Regions from separate parts of the Homo sapiens genome. Here region 1 is linked to region 2. The links come from fine-mapping of genetic effects on gene expression. A gene starts in region 2. The other region holds a variant in brackets. All regions are shown on one strand. Distances are from middle to middle. Region 1 has its middle 36 kb from the start of KAT14. Region 2 holds the start of KAT14 (lysine acetyltransferase 14).

What was found. PIP is the estimated chance that this variant, and not a neighbour inherited with it, causes the effect. A credible set is the group of variants that fine-mapping cannot tell apart.
Region 1: its variant is the best candidate, but not a certain one, in a credible set for the expression of KAT14 in prefrontal cortex (GTEx, PIP 0.54).

What each region holds. Positions count from the first base shown.
Region 1 is chr20:18,100,275-18,103,189 of GRCh38, forward strand. No RefSeq gene overlaps it. Among named protein-coding and RNA genes, the nearest start is that of KAT14, 36 kb to the right of the region's middle. The variant C/T (reference allele first, on the strand shown) is at 1,510.
Region 2 is chr20:18,136,176-18,139,090 of GRCh38, forward strand. It overlaps KAT14 (lysine acetyltransferase 14), which reads left to right and starts at 1,688. Exons shown (of 11, transcript NM_001392073.1): 1 at 1,688-1,876. It overlaps PET117 (PET117 cytochrome c oxidase chaperone), which reads left to right and starts at 1,688. Exons shown (of 2, transcript NM_001164811.2): 1 at 1,688-1,876. The coding sequence starts at 1,781. RefSeq lists a silencer at 2,057-2,176.

The sequences.
Region 1 (2,915 bases), 36 kb before region 2:
CCCACAACTGATTCAGATCCTAGGTCATGCCCTCTATAAACACAAATTGAACCAAGAATTAGTAAATGTTATTAATACCTGAGAATGAATGAGTTTATCTGGGCATTTCTTTTCTTTTTCTTTTCTTTTTTTTTTTTTTTTACACGGAGCCTCACTCTGTTGCCCAGGCTGGAGTGCAATGGCTCAATCTTGGCTCACTGCAACCTCTGCCCCCCAGATTCAAGCGATTCTCCTGCCTCAGCCTCCTCAGTAGCTGGGATTACAGGTGTGCACCACCATGCCCAGCTAATTTTTGTATTTTTAGTAGAAACAGAGTTTCACCATGTTGGCTGGGCTGGTCTCAAACTCCCAATCTCAGGTGATCTGCCCACCTCGGCATCCCAAAGTGCTGGGATTACAGGTATGAGCCATTGTGCCGGCCTGAGCATTTCTTATGAGGAGACAAAATTAGAAAGATGTCTTGAAAAATGTAAAGAAAATAGGCCAGGCGCTGTGGCTCACGCCTGTAATCCCAGCACTTTGGAGGCTGAGGCGGGCGATCACCTGAGGTTGGGAGTTTGAGACCAGCCTGACCAACATGGGAAAACCTTGTCTCTACTAAAAATACAAAATTAGCTGGGCGTTGTGGCGCATGCCTGTAATCCCAGCTACTTGGTAGGCTGAGGCAGGAGAATCGCTTGAACCCGGGAGGCGGAGGTTGCAGTGAGCCGAAGCCATGCCATTGCACTCCAGCCTGGGCAACAAGAGTAAAACTCTGTCTCAAAGAAAAAAGAAAGAAAAAGAAAAATTTAATGAAATTAACTGCCCAGTTATTAACTAGACTAGTGATAAAAATTACTAGTCAGGATTTAAAATTTTCTACTATTTGGCATAAAATATTAATTTATGCATGCTGAGTCATTGAAGCACCCCAAGAACCTGAACATTCTTAGGGGACACTCTTTGGAAATGGCTGGCGTGAGCATTTCAGAGGTCACTGGGCCTCAGAGCTGGGGGCCTGGGAAGAGGGAGAAACTAGGAGGGACTTACAGGGGTGGCAGGGGCTGGAAGGGCAAGGGGAGGATCGAGAGTGATTTCATTTATCTCATGCTTCTGCCTGGAAACCTGTAACTGAATTGGCACTTGTCATGGTGAGGCTATAGCTGTTTGCGGGAAAAAAACAAACAGTTGTTTGTTTAAGCTATTGCTTATCAGGTTTTCTGTTAGTTGCAGTCAAATGTTTTTCTAACTAGACAGCCTGTAGGTGGAAAGTGGGGCCTTTGGAGAAGGAGGATGGAGAAATGGATGCCGCAAAAGTGTCCTGGGCCAGGTTCCCTAGCAACAGAGCTGAAAACGGGGATGCTTGTGCAAAGGCTTTACTGGGAGAGTGCTCACAGGGAAGTGTTGTAAGGGAGTGAGGGAAGTAGGCTGGGCCCGGAGGAAAAGCCAGACAGGCATGTGGATTCAGGTGAAGTCCTGTCTCAGCCTCATCCCACAGGAGCTCTGAAGTATAAGTTGCAACATTGTGAA[C/T]CTGTCTGCCTCGTGTGTGTGTTTGGGAGATGGGGGGTAGGATGAAAATTGTGTGGCAGCCCCAACTGCTGAGCAGCACTGGATAAAGCTGAAGGTGTGAGCCTTAGCAACCGCATCTGCAGCAGCTGGGGGCAGTAAAAGGAATCCCAGGGGTCCACGCAGGCACCAACAGCATCTGCTGCAGAGGATGGCTAATTCTTTGTATGATTTATGGCAAATCTTAAAAGGTAATTTATATGCACACACACAAAAATAGCTAAAATGTTACCTACACACTGACCAGAATACTTCCTAAATGGTGAAGAAGGCAGAGAGCAATCGGAACTCTTTTACGTTGCAGGCTCAACCACTTTGGAAGACGATTTGGCTGTACCTGCTAAAGTGAAACATATGAAGACCCTACGATCAAGCAATTCCACTCCCTTGACTATACCAGTAGAAGTCTGTCCATCAAAGACTTGTAGTAATGTCAGCAATAAAAAGGAATGTACAGACAGGCGCTGTGTAGTGACAGGGATAGGTTCTGATAAATAAGTATTTGTGTATATCTAAACATACCTAAACCAGAAAAGGTACAGGAAAAATAAGGTTTTATAATCTTATGGAACCACCGTCATATATATGATCTGTTGTTGACAGAGACGAACTTATGGTGGTGCATGCCTGTTGTGTTGGTGAATACCACAGGAATTATCTTGGTGAAGGAATCCAGTCTCCAACAGTTACATGCTATATGATTCCATCTATATGGCATTCTCAAGAAGACCAAAGCCATAGTAATGGAAGACAGATCAGTAGCTGTAAGGGACTGGGGAAAGGGGAGGGGATTGTGATTCTAAGGGGACAGTAGGTGAGAGTTTTTGGGGTGATAGAACCAACTATATCTTGATATTGTGGTAGTTACATAGATCTATACACATGTTGAAATCCATAGAATTGCACACCAAAAAGTCAAATGAACAAAAATAATTTAAAAAATATGTATAAGAATGTTCATAGAAGGTGTATTTATAACAGCCTAAACAGGTAGCCTCCCAAAAGTCCATTATGAGCAGAGCAGGCATGCAAATTGTGGTATGTTGGTTCACACTGGGAAACACTACCCAGCACTGGAAAAGAACAAACTACTGGAACATGCAATAGCGCGGATGAGTCTCAGATGTAATATTAAGTGAAAGAGGACAGACACAAAAGAGAGCACACTGTATGATTCCATCTGCATAATGTTCAAAATGGGCCAAATTGAGATGATACAGTCAGGACAGGACTGGAAGGGGACATAAAGGAGTCTTCTGGGGGTGCTAGAAATATATTGTGATCTGGGTGGCAGCTTCATGAAAGTATTCATTTGTTAAACTTCATCATGCTCTACACTTATTTTTTTATTATTATTATTATTAATTATT
Region 2 (2,915 bases):
GAAAAGAAAAAGAAAAAAATAGTTGCTTCTCAGTTTGATGATATGCAGTCACTCTCACAAATCAGTAATTTATGCGACAATAATCACGGAAAATATACTGCTTAGGCTTATAAATATTTAAACAGATAAACATACTTTTTTTTTTTTGCAAGACCTCCCTCAGTCCCCCAACCCACTTTTTTATTTGACACAGTTAATAATAAATGATTTCTTAAAAGTAGAATACTTTTTTTTTTGCTTCTAGTATCCTGAAAATAAAGAAAAGAGTACATTTCAAGAAAACAAGTTGAAAAATTAGTCACAATAAAATGAAAGGCGATTGATCTAATTCCCTGATGTACACTCTAAGGACATACAGCTCTGTTGAAGGCTCACTGATTTACAGGGGAAAATATCTAGGATATACCACGAATAAAAAGAAGTCTAATATAATTTTTAAAGAGAAATATGCAAATACACCCTGAACTGAATTTCTTCTCAAAGTTCATTACAGCAAGAACTCCATTTTCCAATTCAGTGGTACATTCTCTCTAGGCTGCAAAAAATGCTGTGGACAAAATGACATTTGGAAAAGGTATCTTTAAAGATACCTTTAAGAGCAATAGTCCCCTTATGCCATTTACGCTCACATAAGAGACTGGAATAGCAAAGCACTATGAACAGTAATGAATGTTGTAAAACTCCCTGGTGAGGCTTAATCAATACTGCCTATAGCCGTGTCCACCGGAAGAAGCTCGTTCTCTGTGAATTCTAGTGGGAAAGAATGATTGAATGATGAACACGTTTTCACTGGTTGCTCTATCAGATACTTAAAAGTTTCTGGGAGGCCTTGCCTTTTTTACCCGAGGAAGAAGTGAAAATGCGTCTTGCACAATTGCTTAACTATTCCCAACGCAAGACTTCTTTATATCATTTATTTCCCTTGTATTACTGGCGCGGAAACTTGGGTGTAAAAGTGATCACAAAGATTACATGGGGCCAGGCGCGGTGGCTCACGCCTGTAATCCTCTCGGGAGGCTGAGGCAGGAGAATCGCTTGAATCCGGTAAGGTTGCAGTGAGCCGAGATCGCGCCACTGCACTCCAGCCTGGGCGATAGACAGAGACTCTGTATCAAAATTATAATAATAATAATAATAATAATCCGAGCCTGACCAGTCGCCCCACAGCGTCAAGGTGAAACCAGGTGACCGCGACTACAGCGTTTAATAATGGGTCCTCAGGCAAAAACTCCACGGATGGGAACCCCGCGCCTCTGAAGCTGCCTAACGAGGCGGTCTCCTGGTGGCGCCTGCCCCGCCAAAGGAGCAATGAGGGGGCTGCGTTTAGGCGAAGCCGGTATTGGGCGAAGCTTCTGGATCAGTCAGGGGCTCAGAAGGGACGTCTGTGGGAGAGGGGTCAGCACGGTATCCAGACCCCGCCCGGGGTGAGGTTGGTACTGAACTGACTGAGGGGCATGGAACCCCCACCCTCCACCCTGGTAAGGTGCCGGGGCCAGTTTGGGCCGGGACTCCTAGAATTTGAATCGGGGGTGGTCTAACGCTGTCGCCTGCGGGGTGTGCAGGAGGCCCCTAGTGAAGCCAAGAGTTCGTAGAGCCTGGGCGCCGCTCTATGCTCGGCTCTCGATTGCTCACGCCTGGCAGCGGCGAGCGGCGCACGCGACGGCTGGGGCTCTGCGCTCGAGGGGTCGAGCCTGGGCAGTACAGGCGGCGGTGCGCACTCTGCGGCGGCCTCTGCGCCTCGGGCGGGCGGGAGAGAGAGGCCGCGGCCGCCAGCGTGGGGATGTCTAGGAGCTCGAAGGTGGTGCTGGGCCTCTCGGTGCTGCTGACGGCGGCCACAGTGGCCGGCGTACATGTGAAGCAGCAGTGGGACCAGCAGGTCGGTGTCACGTGACCGTCTCTTCCGGGCCCGCGCGCGCGGCGTCGACCTGGGGCCTCTCGTGGTCTCTGCCCGCTCGGTTCCTCAGCTCCTCTTCGTGTCTTTCCCCCGCGGTGGCGCGGCCCTGCACCCCACGCGTTTGCGGCTGCGGCCGGCGGCCGCTCTGCTGGGCTCCGGGCGCTGCAGCTCCCGGCGGGCGTGTGCAGCCCGCAGATTCAGGACGACCCGGCTGCCCGGCTTAGCGCCTTTGGAGCTCCGCGCTGAAGGGGCCTTGCTCCGCACAGGCACGGCACGCAAGCTTTTGGGGTGCCCAGTGGCTCTGTTTTCAAGTCACAGCCGGCCCGCAGGGTGCGGACCTTTCCACATCTCACTTGGGCCGCTAGAAAATAGAAGGTGGGGAAGGAGTTTCTTGGGGTGCATTCTGCAAGCTACCAGCCTCCCTCCTGGCCCAAGGTTGGGGTTAAAGCCTAATGTGTTTTACGTGCTATTGATTTTATCCCATGGTAAGGGAGCCCCCCTTCCCCGTACTCACTCTCCATGCCTTTGACCAAGATAATTTGGTGAGATGTTTGCACTTCTCGTTTAAATGAACAGTTTGCTATGGAAACTAGAATCTGGGAACGATAGAGATAACAGTCTCCAGATTTTTTTTTTTGGTACTTTTATTTCAGGAAATATCCGTGACCTGCTGATCAGCAGTGACTATTCTGTCCTCTCAGTTCATATTTTCTTTCTTATTCAAGTTGACAGACCTTTAATGGGTGATTACTGTGTGGAAGCTACCTCACTAAGCACCTTGGGAATACAAAGATAAGGAAACTCCACTCTTCCAGAGTCTATCAGTGATTCACGACCTTGCTGAGAACAGGGTCATTGGTGAATTTTCAGAAAACAACTTGGCAGTGATTGGGGTTGAACCTAGTTCACCAAGGGTGAAAATAATGGACTGGATGAATCAAGAGTAAACAGTCTTTTCTTGATTTGCCTACCCAGACCTTTGGACTGTGCTATGTGCTTGATATACAGAGATGAAGTGGAT